Linked DNA regions of Homo sapiens. The protein of the gene in region 2 interacts with the protein of the main gene of each other region in a pairwise test. Each region holds a gene or a part of one and is shown on either strand. Other genes may lie near its edges.

Evidence for each region.
Region 1: the proteins of TRIM32 (region 2) and UBE2U interact in binary tests that used the Homo sapiens proteins (3 or more experiments, as listed by UniProt).
Region 3: the proteins of TRIM32 (region 2) and MOB1A interact in binary tests that used the Homo sapiens proteins (3 or more experiments, as listed by UniProt).
Region 4: the proteins of TRIM32 (region 2) and CASS4 interact in a two-hybrid assay, tested with the Homo sapiens proteins (one large-scale study listed by IntAct).
Region 5: the proteins of TRIM32 (region 2) and TRIM5 interact in a two-hybrid assay, tested with the Homo sapiens proteins (one large-scale study listed by BioGRID and IntAct).
Region 6: the proteins of TRIM32 (region 2) and PELI2 interact in binary tests that used the Homo sapiens proteins (3 or more experiments, as listed by UniProt).
Region 7: the proteins of TRIM32 (region 2) and PTCD2 interact in binary tests that used the Homo sapiens proteins (3 or more experiments, as listed by UniProt).

What each region holds. Positions count from the first base shown.
Region 1 is NC_000001.11:64,210,123-64,213,622, forward strand, and holds part of UBE2U (ubiquitin-conjugating enzyme E2 U), read left to right. Parts: intron 1-619; coding exon 620-717; intron 718-3,500. UniProt on the Homo sapiens protein: Catalyzes the covalent attachment of ubiquitin to other proteins.
Region 2 is NC_000009.12:116,699,552-116,701,799, reverse strand, and holds the end of TRIM32 (E3 ubiquitin-protein ligase TRIM32), read right to left. Parts: coding exon 2,096-2,248; 3' UTR 501-2,095; downstream 1-500. UniProt on the Homo sapiens protein: E3 ubiquitin ligase that plays a role in various biological processes including neural stem cell differentiation, innate immunity, inflammatory resonse and autophagy.
Region 3 is NC_000002.12:74,152,028-74,154,879, forward strand, and holds the end of MOB1A (MOB kinase activator 1A), read right to left. Parts: 3' UTR 501-2,852; downstream 1-500. UniProt on the Homo sapiens protein: Activator of LATS1/2 in the Hippo signaling pathway which plays a pivotal role in organ size control and tumor suppression by restricting proliferation and promoting apoptosis.
Region 4 is NC_000020.11:56,439,760-56,443,259, forward strand, and holds part of CASS4 (cas scaffolding protein family member 4), read left to right. Parts: intron 1-3,500. UniProt on the Homo sapiens protein: Docking protein that plays a role in tyrosine kinase-based signaling related to cell adhesion and cell spreading. Regulates PTK2/FAK1 activity, focal adhesion integrity, and cell spreading.
Region 5 is NC_000011.10:5,675,075-5,678,574, reverse strand, and holds part of TRIM5 (tripartite motif-containing protein 5), read left to right. Parts: intron 1-140; coding exon 141-371; intron 372-3,500.
Region 6 is NC_000014.9:56,289,411-56,292,910, reverse strand, and holds part of PELI2 (E3 ubiquitin-protein ligase pellino homolog 2), read right to left. Parts: intron 2,644-3,500; coding exon 2,455-2,643; intron 193-2,454; coding exon of another isoform or gene 145-192; exon of another isoform or gene 1-144. UniProt on the Homo sapiens protein: E3 ubiquitin ligase catalyzing the covalent attachment of ubiquitin moieties onto substrate proteins. Involved in the TLR and IL-1 signaling pathways via interaction with the complex containing IRAK kinases and TRAF6.
Region 7 is NC_000005.10:72,351,373-72,354,872, forward strand, and holds part of PTCD2 (pentatricopeptide repeat-containing protein 2, mitochondrial), read left to right. Parts: intron 1-1,268; coding exon 1,269-1,382; intron 1,383-3,500. UniProt on the Homo sapiens protein: Involved in mitochondrial RNA maturation and mitochondrial respiratory chain function.

The DNA.
Region 1 (3,500 bases), on a different chromosome or scaffold from region 2:
CAGTTGTCTTTCATCTTAGATGATCCTTTCCCAAAAGAAAATCAAATAGTCATTTTAAGTTTCTTCTAGTCATTCTACAGTTTTATTTTTCTTATTTAACTCTATTATTTTTTCAAACACTAAATTACTTAACTGTGTTAGGGCATATGCCAAGCTCCTGTACATCTTTCCAACTTAACATAACAGGACAACGCTGGAGGGAGGTTGTGCCCATCCTCAATGTGAAGATTCCATTTCTGGGACTAAGGCATTTACTGTTTGTCACCATTTCCAGTCTGGGGGAAGGGGGAAGAAAAGAAGGAAAGCCAGCTTCCTTTAAAAAAAGACTCAGAAATTGCACACTTATCCTTATGTCCCACAACAAAAACTTAGTCACAAGGCCACATCTTGCTAAAGGAGAGGATAGGAAAAACTGTAGGGGCACCTATGTATTCAGCTAAAACAACATGGTAATGGGTGGGAACCAGGGATGGGTATAGTGCTTCTCAGTACAGAGAGAAGAACTAGGAAAAAGGAAGAGTAAATGCAGATAATTTTTCTGGCTTATCATTTTGATGTTTGTAAGTTTTAAATAATAATTTATTATAAATGCAAATATTAATGTATTATTTTAATACAGTAGACCCACACACTGGTCAGCCCTGTATAGACTTTTTGGACAACCCTGAGAAGTGGAATACAAACTATACATTGAGCAGCATCTTACTTGCCCTACAGGTAAGAATGGATTTCATATAATCCTCTCTTTAATACTTTTAATTACCCTAATTATTCAAACTACAAGGATTAAAATATACAATGCATATTTAAGTGTTTAAAGAATTTGAGAAGTTTATTTAAATCCATACTTCTATATGAAGGCTACAAAGTGGAACTTACTTAAATTATAAAAACTATTATTTAAAGTGAAATTGATAGTTAAGGCCCCTCAAGACCAAAGAATGCATATCTTATAAAAGAATAAAATAATTATTTAGATGGTTTCAATTCTGAAAATATAACCTTAGGTTTTCTTTTGGTTCCTAACTTCACTTCCTGATGTTGAGCAAGCCTTTTAGATCTTTCTTCATTTATGGACCTTGCCTTCCTGAGAGAGGTGGATCGAATGACTACAACTTAAAATGTTCACTTTTGTTTTTTGTTTCTGACAGTGCTAGTTAGCTACTTTCTGTCCCAATAGTGTTCACATCAAACCCAGTGAACAATTTATACCAAGGATTTTCTCCTCTCCTCAGATGCCTGTTTCTCAGATGCCACCTTTACCCACTGGACCCATGGTCCTTAGAAGCATACCTCAGTGTTGTGCTATTTCTTTTCTTTTCTTTTTTTCTTTTTGAGACAGGATCTTGCTCTGTCACCCAGGCTAGAGTGCAACGGCACAATCCTGGCTCACTGCAGCCTCAACCTCCTGGGCTCAAGTGATCCTCCCACCTCAGCCCCTCAAGTAGCTGGGACCACCGGCATGCCCTACCATGGATGGCTAATTTTTTAAATTTTCTGTAGAGACGGGGTCTCACTATGTTGCTCAGGTTGGCCTCAAACTCCTGGGCTCAAGCAATCCTCCCACCTCAGCCTCCCAAAATGCTGGAATTACAGGCAAGAGCCACCACATCCACCCAGTGTTGTGTTATTTCTGGTCCTTAAAAATGCCTCCTTTCTCATCTAATGCTAAAATGAATTATTTCAGTGAACTTGCTTTGACCTCTTAGAGCTAGCTTAGCAATAATCTATCCATGACCTACTTATCACCAATAATATCTGAAGATAAATAATTACATTTTGATTATCTAGAATACTTGGAATATAAAATACTCTGGCATAATTGAGTTTTTAAATATAGAATTATAATATAAATTGCATTTCTTCTATTTCTTGTATTTGAAAATAAATAAAATAATACTTTCCTGGCTAGTCATCTTAGCATACTAAGTAAAATATAATCTTTAGGAAAGATTCAATGTTCAGTTCATTCATTCATTCTACAAATATGTATTGAGGATCTACTTGTGTGAGGTTGTGTTCTAGGAAGGAGACATTTGAGCAAAAAATTTAAGGGAGTGAGTGAGTGTGATATGCAGAAATCTGGGGTTAATCCTTTGGATTCCTTTAAACTGAGACATATTCTGATCTCATCCACCTAAACTAGAGTCTGCCCTAAGAATAGCAAAATGATCCCAAAATGTAATGAGTAAGGGCAAACCAGAATGAACTGGTGAAAATTTTGAATTGCAGAATAATTTGATAAAAGGAAAATGTGGGGCTCTGAGTTAGCTTGCTTGGCTTCACATCCTGGTTCTGCCACTTGATACCTTTGTATCTATCATTGGACAAATTTTTCCACTTCTCAATGTCTCAATTTCTTCATCAGTAAAATGGGGCTGTTGTTACCTCATGTAACCTGTGAGGAGGAAATTAATTAATGTGTGTAAAGAATTCGGAACTGTGCCTGGTCCAAGAAAATAACTCAATAGTTAATACAGGTCGAGTATTTCTTATCTGAAATGCTTAGGAATTGGAAATTTTTCCAATTTTTGAATATTTGCATTACATATACTTACCATTTGAGCATCCCAAATTTGAAAATTTGAAATCTGAAATACTCCAGTGAGCATTTCCTTTGCACATCATGTCGGTCCTCAAAAAGTTTTGAATTCTGGGGTATTTAGGATTTCAGATTTTCAGATTTAGGATGCTGAACCTCTAGTTAGTTAACATTATGATTGTTCTTACTATTAAAGAGTAATGCAAAGTGACACCAAAGTGTTGCCAAATATATCATGGAAAGCCAGTAGATAACACAATTTTGTCTTTTTATTTTTCGAAAACATTAATAAAACAAATATGCCCACATTACAAAAGATTTTTAAGATAATGGGAAGGAAAAGAAAATCACTGACAATTATAAAGAAAACCCTTAACTTTACTGTTACTAGGAAAGAGCTTTCTGCTCTTTTCTCCTGTTTTTCAGTTTAAAATCTTTCAGTGGATCCCACCTTCTCCACAGGTGTAAGCTCTAGTTCTGTTGCATATCTAATCCTCACACCTAGACTCTCCCTAACACACCAGGCAATCCTGCTCATACTTATATCTTCATGCTTTTCTGCACTCACATTGCTTGGGTCAATTCAGATAAAAAAAACATTCATAGAGTTCTAAAGTTACCTTAGAAATGGTCAGTCTCCAGTTCCCCTCTGCCTGGCAACTCATTTTCTCCTCTTCTCTTCCTCAGTCTGTCCAGCAAGCAGTTGTTCATGTTGTTGTAAGAGTTGGAACAAATGAATCGTCCTCTAGGATACCTTTTCTGATTTATTTTCCTAGGGAGAATTAATAGCTTTGGTTTTGGGGGAGCTTCCTTTGCTACACACCCAACAGTACCCTGAGCAGATTTCTGTTAGAACACTAATACTATAAAGCACACACTGCTTACTTATCTGTCTTCCCCTATTGGACTGCAAGCTCCCCAAAATCAGGAAACAGGTCTAATTCATCCTTGATTTCCT
Region 2 (2,248 bases):
ATCGACTGTACTAAGCACAGCCTAAAATATTCACATCAAAGGGGAAAAAGGAAAAAGACTCAGATCACACTTCCATTTTGAGCCAACAGATAACTGCTTTACTTGAGGGAAAAGGCATGACTGGTTTAGATGGGTAGAGATCTAAATGCTGAATGTCACTCAGTGATGGCACCTCTTTCAAAAGCACAGACAGCTGGAGGATTCCTGGCCTCATTTACCTTCAGCCTGCCCACAATATTATATTTCTCTCTCCACTGCAAACTGTGTGCCAAAGGCCTGAGCCACTGTTATTGCCTCAGCAAGTCCCCCACTGACAGCAAAGACAGATCTCCTGCTGCTGGGTGCCCCCACAGATAAAGTGGCTCTAATAACTAGTGGAGTCATTTGTGATGCACTTTCAATTGGATCAATTTCCTCTCAATTACCCAATCTTTGAAAATCGGATGCAATTTCATAATCAGAATATGGGGCTTTCTCCAGATGAAAAGAACAAGACAAACTAGTTCAACATCATTTTAATGACCTCTTTACCTATCCTTTGGCAGCTATTATGATACAATCCAAAGAAACACTACTACCATAAAAACAATTTTGAGCAGCTCAGTTTAGCAAATTTTGTTTACATCAAAGTAAGGCAGTTGCTCTTTGGCTTGCCATCAGCCCTGCACCTAGAGTAAGATATATTACTTAGTAAACACCAAACCCTCAGGAACCTCATCACAGGTCCTCTCACCCACTTCTGATCTTAAAAACAAGACTAACTTCCTTTTTGTGAACTGTAATTATAAACATAAAACATACAGCAGAAGCTCAGAATAGGGTATTGGTGACTCTAAACCTTGGGGGATGATTCTGTACACATGTATTTGGGAGAAAGATTTGGATTATTATCTTTACATAATAGTGCTTTTGGCTGAATTTTGACCTGGGTAGATATCTACACTCTGAAAGAACACAGTGAGATAAGGAAGCAAAATGGCATAGCGCAGGTTATCCCTCTTATCATCTCCAAAATTCCGTATTTAATTAAAAGACATGAACACCAGAGATGAAGAAACAGTTCTCAATTATTTAATGCTTGATAGAGAAATGGAAAGAAATCCTGAAACCAAATAGTATGTACTGACTTGAGGAAAACACAGAATAACAAACCAATAGTTTTGCTGTTTGTTTTAGTAATGAACATGAAAATGTGTCCACCTCTCCACTTTGTTGGCCCTGGCCTATGTTGTACAATTCCTTAGACACAGGCCAGAAGAGAGAGGTAGTATGAAAAATGATGAGCCCTAGAGACTATCCAAATTTGCTGACTATATCAGCATTTGTTTGCTTATTCCCAGCTTCCTATGCTTTGGCATAATTCCAACCCATATATGCTTCTTTAAAAGGCAAGCAATTTCCAGGCTGAAGTCATCAATACCAACCAACTAGGGTCAATCCATTCTGTCACATCTGCAATTCTCAATCCAAGATGGCACAGATCCTCCAGGCGAGAGGTACTGCTTCCTAAAGGGCTTGTGTATCCCCTTTGGTAGCACTAAATGAATGACTTTCATACTGGTAAAGACGATCAGACTGAGACATAATGTTACGGGAATATGATGTCTTAAATGTCACTGAAAGGTGGAGCAGATCCCACTGAAGCATGCACAGTGAATCCAATCAGAGTTCAAGAGAAAGTGTCACAGATGAAGCACATTATAGTAGGAAGGAAACAATGGATCAAGGGCATCAAAGCCAAATGGGAAAAAATCAAGGATTTAATACAAGGGCAAATTTCAAACATGGCACAAAGGGCTAAAGTGGCTCTCTCTACTAAAGCCTTGGAAGTGCCTAATTGCTAATCAAACTTCAGCTAACACCATCGTGTGTCCTATTTGGGCAGTGCATCTTTTAAAGCTCTAAATTTAGGTGGGAAGCGGGGAGGGGGACATAACAAATAAAAACATTAAAAGATGGAGCTTCTGAAGTTCTAGAACTACCCAGCTGGAATCAGGACATAGGCTGAGTCTATTCTGCATGTGCCACTAACAACCAAGAACTAAGGGAAGGGAAGTTGGCTTGGGAGCAGAAGAAACTGATAATTTCTCATCCCCTATGGGGTGGAATATCTTCTCAGATGGTAGCTGTAGATCTTGATGCAATGATCCCAACAGTCCAAGACCAGCAGCTGCCCCTTAGGAGTTAGGGCTATGCCCACCGGACAGGTAAGTCCCTCTCGAATAAGGACACTATAGCCCCCACCCTT
Region 3 (2,852 bases), on a different chromosome or scaffold from region 2:
AAACTCCATATTTACAAAAAATACAAAAAATTAGCCGGACATGATGGTGTGTGCCTGTTGTCCCCGCTACTAGAAGGCTCAGAAAGAAGGATCACTTGAGCCTGGGAGGCGGAGGTTGCAGTGAGCCAAGACTGTGCCACTGCACTCCAACCTGGGCAACAGAGACCCCAGCTCAAAAAAATAAAATTAGTGTTAACTTGTACTGTTTAGCCACATTCATTAAGTTTTTAATTTTAACTCTACTATCGCACAACCAGGAATGTACAAGAGATCTGGAGCCTGATTTGCATGGCAGGAAGGAGACCACGTATTTTTGTTTGGGATGGGTTTTAGCCACTATCAGAGACATAGTTTGTTTCTTAGGGGTTCGGTCCCAGTAGTATGATACTTAGTTCATTTAGGAACTTCCTTTTTTAACGGCTAAGAAAACATTTTAGCTACTAAATGATATGCAAAGATAACTTTCCAAATTTAAGCTGTACTCAAAAATCCACAGAATCTGCAAAACTCTCAAGTTTCTATATTTAAATAGAAATGTGTGTTGATATACATACTTTAATCAGTCATTTCTTGCTTTCAATATATTTTATTCTGACGAAGTTACAAAAGTAGATACAAAATACTTTTTTTAGAAGTACAGTTAACTGACTTAGAAAAATAGATAAAGCCCCTAAGGATTTTAAAACACAACATAAATTTTTATGTAAAGAACATTTAAAAATATTTTAGATGGTAACCAAAACTAACTTACACAAACTATTTTTGATGTAGAATAGAATGCTGTTCTATAATAAGAAGTCTGTAGCACACTGGTAATCCATTTGGATCTACAGAATACTTGTTTGGAACAGAATCTGATAATGAGAGAAAACTCAAATGAATGTCAGTGCAGTTGCTTCAAAAAAATTACTGCTACCACATGTACTATCATCCCCCAAGGCCTTTTACAGTCTGAAATATCAAAATTGAAAGCAAAAATAGGATGACCAAAGGACTACTATTTTACCTCTTTTCAGAACTCTACAATAGTAGAAACTAAATTCCCTTATGGATCTCAGGGGGAAATAATGTGCCTGTTGAAGGGGCTCAGTGTTTGGTGTCCAGGCTGGCATTTTTCAGGTGAGGGTTTCATACTGACAGGAGGCAGGCTCCTAAAACAAGGCGGTAGCACCAGCACCATGACTAGGGCTGCTTTAAAACAAATTTCTAGGACTTACGCTCTTTGGGCCTGATTTGTTAATGCTTATGAGGTAATGATATTATGTTTGAGAAGCTCTACTTCTAGTATACCTCAATGCTCAGAGAGAAAGCCAACAATACAATCAGGAAACCACAATATTGACAAAACTTAGTACTACCACCAAGATTGTTCCTCTTGCCTTGGCACTACTAAAAAACTTTACCTTTGTTACTAAAGTCATGGTGAATACAGATTTTGCATTTCTCATGTAAGCAGCTATATAAGCTAGGGTTCTACAAGCCTTAGATGAAAGGAAAAACTTTGCTGGAAGCCCTGTAAAAATCACTTTATTCACAATCTGAAGAATGAAAGACAAATTTGGCTGTCAATACAAAAACTGTAGTACAAGGAAGTTCAACTGTTTAAAAATCTGCACATCACTGTACAAGTGTTTTTTGAAGGCCTGAAAATTAAAGCACCATAGGATTAACTGCATAATTTAGCAAGCACTCTCTACCCCATGACTGTAATCATGTATGAAGAGCAGAGATCAGACACTGAGAGGAGATGGCTTCTGATTAGCAAGGGGGAAGGGAGTGAGTGTTATGGAACAGGCAAACCTTGGGCATGGGGAGATAAAAGTGAGAAGAGTCAAAAAGATTGATTTCTATAGGCCGGGCACGGTGGCTCATGCCTGTAATCCCAACACTTTGGGAGGCTGAGGCGGGCGGATTGCGAGGTAAGGAGATGGAGACCATCCTGGCTAACACGGTGAAACCCCATCTCTACTAAAAATACAAAAAATTAGCCAGGCATGACTAAAAATAGAAAAAATTAGCTGGGCGTGGTGGCGGGCACCTGTAGTTCCAGCTACTCAGGAGAGGCTGGGGCAGGAGAATGGCATGAACCTGGGAGGCAGAGCTTGCAGTGAGCCGAGATCCCACCACTGTACTCCAGCCTGGGTGACAGAGTGAGACTCTGTCTCAAAAAAAAAAAAAAAAAAGATTGATTTCGTCAAACTGTTATCAAAGGTTGGCCCTCTAGCCAACTCAGGAAGGCGCCATCCTCTTCCCATTATCTCCCCTTCCTCCAATTCTCCTCCTCCCCTTGGCTCCCTAGCCTTGGAGGTAAACACTAATATTTCAGTGCACTGTTGGTTAAGCCAGATTGGCTTGGGAACCTGGTAATGTTTTTATTTTTATTTTAAAAAAGGACAGTCTTGAGTCTCAAAATACCAACACATCTCTGATTTATGTCCCATTTATAAGCTGCCTTTACTACTGTCCTGACATGTGATCGTCTTTCATTTGCTTTGGAGCTTAGTGGTGAAGAGAGGGAACATTTCCATAACTGAAAATAAATGGAGAAAAGTGGTAACTCTTTTGTTTGAGAATATTTGAAATACTAGAAATAATGAGGAAAGTACAAGCCTAGCTGAGAAACTAGTTTCATCACTTGTGGACTTAAAAAAGTAAAGCTAACAGGGTTTAAAGTTGAGAGGCAGTTCACATCCTAAGTGATACCTAGAAACCTGCTTTCTTGTTCGCAAATGATCAACATGAACATACAGAATGGCTGACATTTGGACCTTTGGATAAGCTTAAAACATGGATTGTGGAATGTCTAATAGAGGGCTTTTCTCTCTTTTTTTTAATAATGACTGTCCCACACT
Region 4 (3,500 bases), on a different chromosome or scaffold from region 2:
TGCGCTATTTCCCTCAAAGCCCTGGCCTTCATGAGGTGTTGAGATGTAGAGCAGATGTGCACAGGCCTCAGTCACTGCAGGCATTTCCTGCCATCAGATGCTTTGCTTTCAGCTCCCATGACACATCCCACCCGGCCACAGCTCTGGCAGAGGGTCTTGGCAAGGTCTGTGTGCAGGGAAAGGCCAAGCTCCCTGAGGCATGTGCTGTGGGGGCCCCAGGAATGTGCTACTCACCATTCAGGCCTTCTCCACACCAGCTTCCAAGGTTGTCTTCAAACAGGAAAGTGTTGATTCCTTAGAAGATTTTGAATACTTTACATTTTCTAACTCCCTGGGCTACAAGACATAGAACCAGACAGTTGTTACATAGAACAGCTGCCAGCACAGGCACTCGCTACAAACACCAGGAGGAAGCTGGTGGCGCCTTCTGAAGCAGTCAATGAGGTGGACACTAACTCTCTTTTCTGGAACAACTGGCCCCGATCTAGGCCTGGCATGCTCAGCTGCTGTCTGAGCAGCTGACTCGGAGCAGAGCTTTGCTGAGGTTTCTTCTAAGAACAACAAGTGACATTAACTGAAGTTAACTTGAATTTCTTCCAAAGCCATGAAAAGAAAAAACAAAAAATCAATAGCAATTCCTTCCTCTCCCTGAAAGGAAAACAGATGCGCTGTCCTCTGTTGGTTGACCAGAGGACCCTCGAAGACCACTTCACAATCAGTTAAGTTTTCTGATCCACAGAAAAGGCTGGCAAGGCTGGCACCTCCTCCCTGCTCATGCCACTCAATACAATGACAGGCTCCTACAAGGTACTTAGTAAATACCTGTTGCATGAATGAAATTGACCAAACACAACACAAGGTTTCAAAAACATGGAGTCCACTATCAACTGCTAGACTGACATCCGTGTGAAAGGAAAGATGAGTTTACTATTGAAACTTAACTTTGAAAAATGATCAGGGCATTAGCAATGAGATTTGTCCTTGATGTTAAGTGCATCAACCATTTGAGGCCTTGCTTGTGCAGGCTGTGGCAAACAACAGAAACCGCAAGGAAATTCAGGGGGGGTCCCTTTAACCACTGAGCAGAGTTCTTGAGGTGGCCACAGTAAAACCCCCCAGGGGAATTTCCTGCCTTGTTTTCCTTCCTTAAGTTCCCTCCATGTCTGCCCTACCTACAAGTTTGCTCCCTTCCTTCCCTCCCTTCCTATTTATTTACTTAAAAAAAAAAATTTTTTTTTTTTTTTTTGGAGGCAGAATCTCGCTCTGTCACCCAGGCTGGAGTGCAGTGGCGTGATCTCGGCTCACTGCAACCTCTGCCTCCTGGGTTCAAGAGATTCTCCTGCCTCAGCCTCCCAAGTAGCTGGGAACACAGGCTCCCACCACCACGCCTGGCTAAATTTTTTTTGTATTTTTTAGTAGTGACAGGGTTTCGCCATGTTGGCCAGGCTGGTCTCGAACTCCTGACCTCAGGTGATCTGCCCACCTCAGCCTCCCAAAGTGCTGGGATTACAGGCGTGAGCTACTGTGCCCAGCCTATTTACTTAAACATTGTTTTAATTTATTGGCTGGGTGCGGTGGCTCACACCTGTAATCCCAGCAATTTGGGAGGCCAAGGCGGGTGGATCACCTGAGGTCAGGAGTTTGAGACCAGCCTGGCCAACATAGTGAAACCCTGTCTCTACTAAAAACACAAAAATTAGCCATGTGTGGTGGTATGCATCTGTAGTCCCAACTACTCAGAAGGCTGAGGCAGGAGAATCGCTTGAACCCGGGAAGTGGAAGTTGCAGTGAGCCGAGATCACGCCACTGCACTCCAGCTTGGGTGACAAGAGGAAAACTCCGTCTCAAAAAAATAATAATAATTTTTAATTTCTTGCCTTCTCTGTGCTTGGAGTCTCTTAGCAAGAGATGTGGTCTGTGGCTTACAACTCAGGAGTGCCATCTCATTTGGCTTCTGGGGCAGCCAATGTTGCACTGGGTGATTGGGGACCTCCCAACACCCTTTGTGTTTCTCCTTCCTCCTCTGTATAGGGAGAAGGTTGGACCCCATCTTTTCTAAAGTCACCTTCAGATGTACCTTTTGGTTTTTCTAAATACTTTCTTCTTCCTCTACTCTGAGAAGGAAGGAGCTAGAAGAACTTGAAGACCAGTTAACAATCAGTTACACATTTTCTGATCCACAGAAAAGGCAGGCGTCTCCTCCCTGCTCATGTCATCTAGCCATTAACCCTGAGGCTAAACCCGCCCAGAAAATACATTCCAAATGGAAGCGGCTGTTGGTAGACGGGGCAACTCTGAGCCACGGGTTTTGAACTGTTTTCCCATGGCAAATTCACAGGCTTGGAACACAGCCTTTGTGAGGCACTTCACGGACTCCTTTCTATATCTGTGTTGACAGTCTGCAGACTAAGAGTGGCCCCAAATTAACATCCGAGAAGGTGGAAACATGTCATTTTTCTCAAGTTGTCCTAAGAGAGGCGTCTATGTGTCAGAATCAGACATCTCTATAGCTGGGTGCGATCTCTGCATATCTTTAGATTAGAACAACTCTTCATTTTACAGATGAGGACATTAATTCCCAGGGAGGTGAAACTGCTCGTGCAGCCACACAGCTGATGAAGTACGACTTCCATCACCCCCCAAAACACAGCCCTTATTCCTTGATCTTCTTTCACCTGACTCTGTGGCTGACGCTATTCTTTCTGATGAACACTTTACTGAAATTTCACCTACAGATGCTACGTTACAGCTCTGTAACTTATATCCAGACCACGAAACAACAAAACTACCACCCCAGAAGCCTCCAGTGCCTTCTCTCTGTCACTTCCCCACTAGGGTAACCACTATCTTGAGCTTTGTTTTACTTTTTATCCCAACTTCCTTAATATAATGTGCTGGCCTAATTTAAAAAAAAAACCCACCACATCAAGAGCATATTTGATTTCAGTTTAAATTCAGAAGGGACTCTTGTATTTCAAGAGAAAAGGGTCAGATTTCCTGGTGAAACTGCTTTTGGATCCACTAGTTCCTGAACTGGAGTTTCCTTCTGTCTCCCTAAACCTTTCGAAACTGTGTTTCTCAAACATGTTCCTTAACTGATTGCCATACTGGGCCTACGTTTTCCAAGAAGCACTGGGCATTTTTGAGCTGGCTTCCTTCCATCTGAAATGTCATACACAGGAAAGTCCCTTTGCTCTGTGGAGGTGCCCTTATAGGCAAAGGGGATCCCACAGTCAGCCATCAAAATAAAATGGGCCTGAAGTCATGGGGAGGAATGGGCCTTGGGACAGCATTTGGAAAGGGTCTGCGGGGGGAGAAAGCTTGGTGTGTTTCTGGGAGGTACCACTGGCGGTACAGCCAGTGGTCCGGGACACTCACTCAAGGTCCCTGGGTGTGGCGGGTGCATAGCTTGTCAGACCGGGTAAGCAGCTTGGATTTCTGGCCTGGCGCGGTGGCTCACGCCTGTAATCCTTCCACTTTGGGAGGCTGAGGCAGGTGGA
Region 5 (3,500 bases), on a different chromosome or scaffold from region 2:
AAGGCAGCTTTCCTAAGACCTACTCTCCTGCTACTATGTCCCCTCCTTGTGAGAACTCCCCAAAAGAAACAGCTCCTTTTCTGGCTAACAGCCTCTGCCTGGTAGACTGAGTGCCCCTTTCTCTTCTCTTATCTCTGAAGACTCAAATACAGTATGACAAAACCAACGTCTTGGCAGATTTTGAGCAACTGAGAGACATCCTGGACTGGGAGGAGAGCAATGAGCTGCAAAACCTGGAGAAGGAGGAGGAAGACATTCTGAAAAGCCTTACGAACTCTGAAACTGAGATGGTGCAGCAGACCCAGTCCCTGAGAGAGCTCATCTCAGATCTGGAGCATCGGCTGCAGGGGTCAGTGATGGAGCTGCTTCAGGTAAAAAGTGGAAAGAAGCCTGAGCACTGAGATTAAAGAAAAGTGAAGGCTATTTCCTTCTCTGCGTTGCTGTGCTTTTTCTAATATTAACAATGTTCTCTGCAGGACCGCTTTTCTGAATCAATTGCTGAAGTTATAAGAATAATTGAATGTAGAAGTAGCAAGAGATAATCCCATTTTTATTAATTTATCCAGAGCAGTAGAAAAATTTGACGTAGTGGAGATGATCAATTAGCTCTAGTCATGTTTGATAGGTTCCTATTCTCTGTATTCTAGTGTTGAGACTTACCAGTGCAGCTTTTCATTGCTCAGCTTAGCCACTGGCAAACAAATACACGTCAAAATACAAGATGCTTTTTATTTTTTTCCTTCATGGAATTAATTGAGACTTTTTCCTTTTTTTTTAATTTTCTGAAAAGAATTAAATAACTGCTATCATTTCTTCTTTATATGCTCAATAGAATTCACTAGTAAAGGCTGGGCGCGGTGGCTCACGCCTGTAATCCCAGCACTTTGGGAGGCCCAGGAGGGCCAGTCATGAGGTCAGGAGGCCCAGGCGGGCCAGTCATGAGGTCAGGCGATTGAGACCATCCTGGCTAACACGGTGAAACCCCGTCTCTACTAAAAATACAAAAAATTCTAGATCCCTGAGGAATCGCCACACTGACTTCCACAATGGTTGAACTAGTTTACAGTCCCACCAACAGTGTAAAAGTGTTCCTATTTCTCCACATCCTCTCCAGCACCTGTTGTTTCCAGACTTTTTAATGATTGCCATTCTAACTGGTGTGAGATGGTATCTCATTGTGGTTTTGATTTGCATTTCTCTGATGGCCAGTGATGATGAGCATTTTTTCATGTGCTTTTTGGCTGCATAAATGTCTTCTTTTGAGAAGTGTCTGTTCATGTCCTTCGCCCACTTTTTGATGGGGTTGTTTGTTTTTTTCTTGTAAATTTGTTTGAGTTCATTGTAGATTCCGGATATTAGCCCTTTGTCAGATGAGTGGGTTGTGAAAATTTTCTCCCATTTTGTAGGTTGCCTGTTCACTTTGATGGTAGTTTCTTTTGCTGTGCAGAAGCTCTTTAGTTTAATTAGATCCCATTTGTCAATTTTGTCTTTTGTTGCCATTGCTTTTGGTGTTTTAGACATGAAGTCCTTGTCCATGCCTATGTCCTGAATGGTACTGCCTAGGTTTTCTTCTAGGGTTTTTGTGGTTTTAGGTCTAACGTTTAAGTCTTTAATCCATCTTGAATTGATTTTTGTATAAGGTGTAAGGAAGGGATCCAGTTTCAGCTTTCTACATATGGCTAGCCAGTTTTCCCAGCACCATTTATTAAATAGGGAATCCTTTCCCCATTGCTTGTTTTTCTCAGGTTTGTCAAAGATCAGATAGTTGTAGATATGCGTCGTTATTTCTGAGGGCTCTGTTCTGTTCCATTGATCTATATCTCTGTTTTGGTACCAGTACCATGCTGTTTTGGTTACTGTAGCCTTGTAGTATAGTTTGAAGTCAGGTAGTGTGATGCCTCCAGCTTTGTTCTTTTGGCTTAGGATTGCCTTGGTGATGCGGGCTCTTTTTTGGTTCCATATGAACTTTAAAGTAGTTTTTTCCAATTCTGTGAAGTCATTGTTAGCTTGATGGGGATGGCATTGAATCTGTAAATTACCTTGGGCAGTATGGCCATTTTCACGATATTGATTCTTCCTACCCATGAGCATGGAATGTTCTTCCATTTGTTTGTATCCTCTTTTATTTCCTTGAGTAGTGGTTTGTAGTTCTCCTTGAAGAAGTCCTTCACGTCCCTTGTAAGTTGGATTCCTAGGTATTTTATTCTCTTTGAAGCAATTGTGAATGGGAGTTCACTCATGATTTGGCTCTCTGTTTGTCTGTTGTTGGTGTATAAGAATGCTTGTGATTTTTGTACATTGATTTTGTATCCTGAGACTTTGCTGAAGTATACCATTTGACCCAGCCATCCCATTACTGGGTATATACCCAAAGGACTATAAATCATGCTGCTATAAAGACACATGCACACGTATGTTTATTGTGGCATTATTCACAATAGCAAAGACTTGGAACCAACCCAAATGTCCAACAATGATAGACTGGATTAAGAAAATGTGGCACGTATACACCATGGAATACTATGCAGCCATAAAAAATGATGAGTTCATGTCCTTTGTAGGGACATGGATGAAATTGGAAATCATCATTCTCAGTAAACTATCGCAAGAACAAAAAATCAAACACCGCATATTCTCACTCATAGGTGGGAATTGAACAATGAGATCACATGGACACAGGAAGGGGAATATCACACTCTGGGGACTATGGTGGGGTGGGGGGAGGGGGGAGGGATAGCACTGGGAGATATACCTAATGCTAGATGACGAGTTAGTGGGTGCAGCGCACCAGCATGGCACATGTATACATATGTAACTAACCTGCACAATGTGCACATGTACTCTAAAACTTAAAGTATAATAAAACAAAAACAAAAACAAAAAAAACACAACAGAAGAAAAAAAAAAAAAAAGAAATGCAAGAAAGCTAGCACCCCCAGGGGCATCCTTCAACCAATGGGGTTGGGAGTTGATGGAGAAATGCCTCAGCTCTCAGTGTTTCGGGCAGAGATTCTGGGGCATTCCCAGGAGGTTTGGTGGGATCATGATCCCATAATGCCCAGAAACAACCCCAACAGCTTACTCATACATTGGCTTCTCCTCCTCCCTGTCTTACCTCCCTGCTCCCTCATTCCTGCTTCCTGGGGTCAGGTAAATCACCTGGACCCAGGTCCTTGTCTCAGGCTCTACGTTCAGTGTTTCTCATGCTGTATTCCTCGGAACCCCAGGGCACCTTAGGATGTGTCTACCCCTCTCTCACCTGCATTTGATTTAATGCTCTGTTGTCATCATCTTGAAATGTTTAATAAATTTTGAACAAGGGGCCGCATATTTTCATTTTGCATTGTACCCCACAAATGAAAAAAAATAATACAAAAAATTAGCCAGGCGTGGTGGCGGGCACCTGTAATCCCAGCTACTTGGGAGGCTGAGGCAGGAGAATAGTGTGAACCCGGGAGGCGGAGCTTGCAGTGAGCCAAGACTGCACCACTGCACTCCAG
Region 6 (3,500 bases), on a different chromosome or scaffold from region 2:
TAAATACTCAAGGCCCTCCTGGAGTAATATTATAAATGTTACCATATGTTATCATTAACTAGCTAAAAAAGGAGGGCACAATTCAAACTCCATTCACCTATTTATTCAGGGAGTTAAAGGCCTGAAAAGACATTTCCCCCATATTTAATTAATTTTGTTGATTAGTACACAGTTCTGAGGTTCCATCATTTGCTGTAATAATGAAAAACAACGGTGATTTCTTGTTACACATACATTAGTATATTGATTCATATCAAATGCTCAGTATGATATTAATACATAATCTTCCACCAGCACTAGCTCCACAATGTGACTACTATTGTTTTAACAAATATTTTAGACTTTTAGCAGCTCACTTTATTTCTCATATTTCTGTATTAGACTGCAAATGACAAGTACTGCCAGAGACTGTCTCCAAAATCTAACCTCCAGATAAACATAATTTATATCAAATGCTACCAGCAACATGTACAGGACCAATGAGTCATGAATTGAAACAGAAGTTCAAAGAGTCAGTAAGCTTTCCTCGAAGACAGACAAAAACTGTTCTCCAGAGGTTAACAAGAGGAGATTGCAGGAAGAATGTATCCGTTCAGTGTCCCATAAGCCCAAGATCAGGCTGATAGAAGCCTTTGTAACTGGCCAGGTTAATCGGATGCTATCAAATAGGACAGCACAATTTTACATAGTTCTCAGTGTCGCTTATAGGGACTAACTTCAAAAATAGCCTGTATATTTAATACAACTCATTAATACAAGCCATTTTTGGAGTTCGTTCTTTTCAGTCGCACTGTAAAATTCTCCAGCACACATAGCAGCCTGAGAAGGGTCATTACACAATAACCAGAGTGGACGAGAAACTCATCCTGTGATATGCCCTCCTGGACAAAGGCGCTCCCCACGGACTCCAGCGTATGCTTTATACTCACCCAGGGAGGCAAATGCTCAGGTGTAAACCATCCCTGGCTCCCCACAACATGGTACTGAGTAGTATTAGGTGTCCAGGCTCTCCATCAGGGAGACCTGAGTTTGAATCCCACTGGCTGCCACCTGCTAACTCTGTGACACTGGGCAATCTTTAACTTCACGCCACATCTTCCTCATCCATGAAATGGGGATGACTCTACTTCCCTAAGAGGGCTGCTGTGCAGATGAAGTGAGCTCATGTCGGAAATGTTAACGCAGAGTCTGCACCCAGCAACCATTTACTGACTTCTTACTCTTGCTGTTATAATGATGAATAACCAGTTTGGCCAATCTAGGTCAGTTTTGTATAAAACTATCCAGTGATCAGAAACAAAAGATTATTTAGAAAAACTGCTTTCACATTTCCTCCTTTGTTTACAATTTCTTGAAAACATTCATACAAAATTTATTGAATTTGCTTTTTTTTTAGAAAATGCTTCTCATATTTATTCAGCCATGGTGCACTGTAAGACGCATACGCTGTGCCTGAAGCTGAAAAATGGTGTAAAATAGAAATAAAAATAACCATTCCCTAAACACAAACATCCAGTAGAGAACAGCAAATGAGGTCAGTGAAACAGCCCCCAACTTCTTTTTCCATCTTAGACATTTTTGGTGATGATCTTTCTCTCTGACAAGTGCTAGGTCAAATCCTCTATTCTGTATACATTTTATTCTGTGGGAGTTTTGAAGAACTCCTTCTTTTCTAGCTTCTAGAAAAAGACATTTGTTCTCTCTCGTTCTAGCTTCTACCTAGCAAATTAAGAAAAGTACAGGAATGGACAGCTTACTAAAAATCAGTGGCTGTGCTACATGGCTATGGCAAGATCAGAAACCCAAAGTTCTATATTTAAGGTATTATAATTATTCTCCAAGAAAGAATGGGTTTAAAAAAACTGCTTTAGGGCATGGGGATAAGTGGTGATATTTATAGGAAAATATTAACATGCCAGGTCAATGCAGTATATAAATCATTTCAAGTAAACAGTTGTAACTATGATTTTGGTGGACAGTATAGAGAATTCTGCCTTAATATATAGGAATTCAAAGGGAAAACCAGCTGACTTATTTTTTACTTCCAGAAAGTCTAGTAAATAATTCCTTAATGCATAATTTTTACTAATTGTTTTTGGACTGCTCAAACGTTTTCCAAATCAATAAAGTTTTACACTAAAAATAAGTTTCTTCTCCTTAAAGTGAATTTAAGTAGATTTTTGTGGTGAGGTATATAATAAAAGATAATGCTCTTCAGGTGGTAAGGAGCAAAACACAATTTACTCCCACTATGGGAAAAGTTGAACCCCTGAAGGAGATAAGGCCATTTCCCTCTTGATTTCAGGGGCTTGTGGAATTCTGCTTCTCCTGAGTTACAGTACATGGCGCTTGGACCTGCACAAAGGTTCTGAACATCAGGGGAGGAAAATGATAGCCTTCGAGTTAGGCTTGAGTAGTTTCGTACTTCACACTTGCAGAGTGAAGCACACTCACCAGCTTTCCTCGTTGCTGGGCCGACCTGGTTTCTCGCAAGGTGTACACATCTCCACAGACAGAGATCTCGCGCCAGACCCCGGGCTGGGACTCCTCGGTGAAGCCCCCTCGTGGATGCATCACCAGGACGCCATTAGTAGTGAGCCCATCCATGTGGCCGTCGGGGTTTTTCCACTTTGCTGCCTTTTCCTGGAGAGAACACAGCAGAACAGAAAAAGTAGGTTAAGATGATGTTGAAATGGAAAGGATTCTGGAATTTCTTTAATACATTGCATAGAGGCAGAGGGGAGGAAGGTGATGAATTTTCATTTTCTATTTAAAGCTAATAATCACAAGGATAACATATGCCATCCTTTCGACAATATAAAAGAAGTGCTGAATGGATGAATGACTTATCACTGGACACACATCATAGTTCTCAAGAACTTGCAAAAAATCGAGGCCTGGGCTTCTCCCTCTAAGATTCTTTTTACCTTCCCCACAACCCCATGAGATTCCAGGAATCTGGTGTGTTTTCTCTTTTCAGTTATACTTATGCCATGCTCCTATCCTGTTATCTAAAAGTACTTTCTATGTTCTCACTGTCAGGATAGAGAAGAGAAAGGACAGTCATAAAGAAAGACCTTTTATTAAAGCTAGAAAATTCCAAAAATGTTAAGCCAACAAGTCGGGGTCATTATGTTTTCATAATAATCACCGTTTAAATTCTCAAAGGTAGATGGCGCATGTAGCTTGACATGACGACAGGACAGACACTCTTGGGTGCTTGTGCCACAGCTCTTCCCTTCAGCTTTCTTGGTGACAGAGCTCAGCTACTGTTCATGTGGCTGGGGCGGGGGTTGGGGGGTGGTGGGGAATCCTGATTAACCCAACATGACACTCCCAGCCCTCTTCCCAATAGCTGGTTTACAGGTGGGCACAGCACATGACTGGGCTCTGACTGATGACACATGATATCTTCTTGGAGGCTTCCAAGAAAGGTGTCTGTGCTCTAAGAAGAGACAAGGAAGAAACAGTGCTTCTGCCACCCTCTTCTCTGGCTGGAA
Region 7 (3,500 bases), on a different chromosome or scaffold from region 2:
CTCATTAACATTCCAGCCAGCTTCCACTCTGTGCCTGCAGTAACCTGTGTGCCTGCAACTTCCTAAAAACAGAAAACGCTGAAGGTACCATTTGCCCCTAGCCAGTTACTGTTATCCATTTTCACACTGCTATAAAGAATTGCCAGAGATTGGGTAATTTATAAAGGAAAGAAGTTTAATTGACTCACAGTATCACATGGCTGGGGAGGCCTCAGGAAATACAGTCATGGGGGAAGGCGAAGGAGAAGCAAGTGTCTTCTTCACAAGGCAGCAGGAAAGGGAGAGAGCAGGGGCAACTGCCACTTATAAAACCATCAGTTTTCATGAGAACACACTGACTATCATGAGAACAGCATGGGGGAAACTGCCCCCATGATCCAATCACCTCCCACCATGTCCCTCCCCCGACACTGGAGATTATCATTCGAGATGAAATTTGGGTGGGGACACAAAGCCAAACCATATCACTAGTCTTATGAGATTGATTGTCATATCCTCTGAATCTAGAGGATGTAGAAAGGAGGAAACCAGTATTTTTGTTCATTGAGTATCTTCTGTATACTGGTATTTTATTTAATGTTCATAAAACCCAAAATGTGAGATCTAAATCTATTTTCCCCATTTTACAAATGAGGGCATTTAAATTGAAAGATTAAGTACCAGTCCAGAGTCACTTAGCTGGTACTTGCCAGTGTCTAGATTTCAGCCCGAGTATCCAGACACCAAAATCTCTGCCCTCTCCAGTGTTACCCGTAAACAAGTTTTGAAGTTGTAGTATTTTATTTTATTTTTTTGAGATGGAGTCTTGCTCTGTTGCCAGGCTGCAGTGCAGTGCCGCAATCTCGTCTCACTGCAACCTCCGCCTCTCAGGTTCAAGTGATTCTCCTGCCTCAGCCTCCCAAGTAGCTGGGATTACAGGTTCATGTCACCACTCTCGGCTAATTTTTGTATTTTTAGTAGAGATGGGGTTTCACCATGTTGGCCAGAATGGTCTCTATCTCTTGACCTCGTGATCTGCCCACCTTGGCCTCCCAAAGTGCTGGGATTACAGGCAAAGTTGTAGTTTTTGATTAACTATTGGAAAGCACATTTTGGCTCGTAAGTGTACATTTAAAGCACGTTTTTGAACTTGTGTAAGCAAATAAATTAGGAAGTAGGATCAAAGCAGGGTAGGTGCCTATAAATGAAGGCTTATCTAACCAGGTACATTTCTCAGCATTGAGACACTCACTCAGTCTTGGTTTTGCTTGTGTCTTCTTAATATTCAGATTATAATCCATATCCAGTCAAATATGTTGGAAAACCTGATAAAGACTCTAAAAAATGCTGCAGAAGGAAATTTATCAAAATTTGTGAAAAGACATGTGTTCTCGGAGGAAGTGGTGAGTATGCAAGTGCTGCAGAAATCATTTAAAAGTGAAAGGACACTCTTAAAAATGTCCACTAATTTCTCAATTCTAAAGCTTACCTTAAAGAAATTGCCAAATATGGCAGCTTCTCTGTTGTTCCTGTTTTAAGACTTCCATGTATATGTGCAAAGATTTTTTTTTCTTCCAACAGAATATATCCTCTGAAATTCTAGGAAACTTTTCCCTTTTACCTTATTCTTTTCTCCACATTGTATTCATGGGCCCTGGCTCTCTTTTTCTTCTAGATGACGATTTTACACCTTTTTCCTTTTCCCTCAAGCCTTCAATACCTTCTCCTCACTTTTCACTCTCAGTTGATCACTGTATTTCTTGTTTCTTGGAGAAAATAGAAGTAATCAGAAAAGCATGACTGCTACATAGAGAGCCTCTGGCCCCTTGCCCTATATACCCATGATGACTGGATACATCTCTCACACCAGCCTCTTCAGTCATGCACTGGATCCCATCCTCTCTGACCCACTCCACAGCATCAGTCCAGAAGTTGACTCACTCTTTTGGCTATCATCAGTATCCCCTTCCCTGTGGGTCATTCTTGTCAGCAAACAGTAGGATATAGTATCTCTCATCTTAAAAAATAAAAAGAATCTTCTGTACAAATGAAAAGACAGACCATATGTTTAGATAAGAAGACCTAGCCTCATAAAAACTCAGTTTTTTTCAAGTTACTGTGATAATGTAATATGACTCCAATAAAAATATCACTTTGTTTTTTCTGTAAAGGTTAGTTGAAAGAACAAACAAGACTAGCTAGAAAAACCCTGTGAAAGAGGGGCAGTAAGAGTTGCTAGGTCTAGCAGATATCAAAGCATGTTAAAGTTTCTATAATTCAAACTGTGGCTTAGGACATGAATAGGGCAGCTAATGGGACAGAATAGAAAGTCCGGATACAGACCAAATTGCAGATACAAATTTAGTGTAACATAGAGACAAGCATCTCAAATCAATCTAAGTGGATAGACTAGTAAGAAGTAGTACTAGGATAAGTAGAGAGCCAATAGAAAAAGATACAGTTGTATATATTCTTATACCACAAACCAGGATACATTTCAAATGGATGAGAATTTAAATTTTTAAATTGAAATACACAAGTACTAGATATAAACATTAGTAGATTCTTTAATATCCTGGGAGTGGAAAAACTTAGCTTTCAGTCAAAATCCAAATCAGTAAAAGAAGTGATAAATTTGACTAAATAAAAATGTTAAAACCTGTTTTTTCATGTGGCAAAAAGTCTACAAGCAAAGTCAAGAGGTAAGTAATCAATTTTTAATCATACTGACAAAAGGCTAACTAGCCCTAATATTTCAAGAGCTCTTTTTGAGGCCAGGTGCGGTGGCTCATGCCTATAATCCCAGCACTTTGGGAGGCTGAGGCAGGCGGATCATGAGGTCAGGAGATCGAGACCATCCTGGCCAAAATGTAACCCCGTATCTACTAAAAATATAAAAATTAGCTGGGCGTGGTGGTGCATGCCTGTAGTCCCAGGTACTCAGGAGGCCGAGGCACGAGAATCGTTTGAACTAGGGAGTCGAGATTGCGCCACTGCGCTCCAGCCTGGCGACAGAATGAGACTCCATCTGAAAAAAAAAAAAAAAAAAAAAAAAAAGCTCTTTTTGAAAATTCTGAGAAAAGAACCAACAACCCTGAAGAAAAATGGGTAAGAGATGTGGACAGAATTTACTAAAAATGAATTGTGAATGGCCTTTAAACTTTCGAAAAGATTCTCTTGCCCATATCAAGAAAATGCTAAATAAAACTACCCTATGATATTTCTCTTGAATAGAAATCTGCAAGTTTGCCAGCCAACTTGGTTGGTGAGGCTCTGAGGAAATGGGCGCTATCATCTGAGGAAATGCTGCTACAGCGAATACAGATTGGTACACTACAAATACTTTCACCCTTTGACTCAATCCTCCCACTTCTTGGAGTATATTCTAAAAATATACTGGCAAATATAAAGAAGTTGTATGTACAAGGCTATTTGTTGCAATCCAATTTCTAATAACAGCAGACTGGAAAAAAGCCCAAATTTCCATCACTAGACAACTAGTTGTACAAATTAGGGTCTGT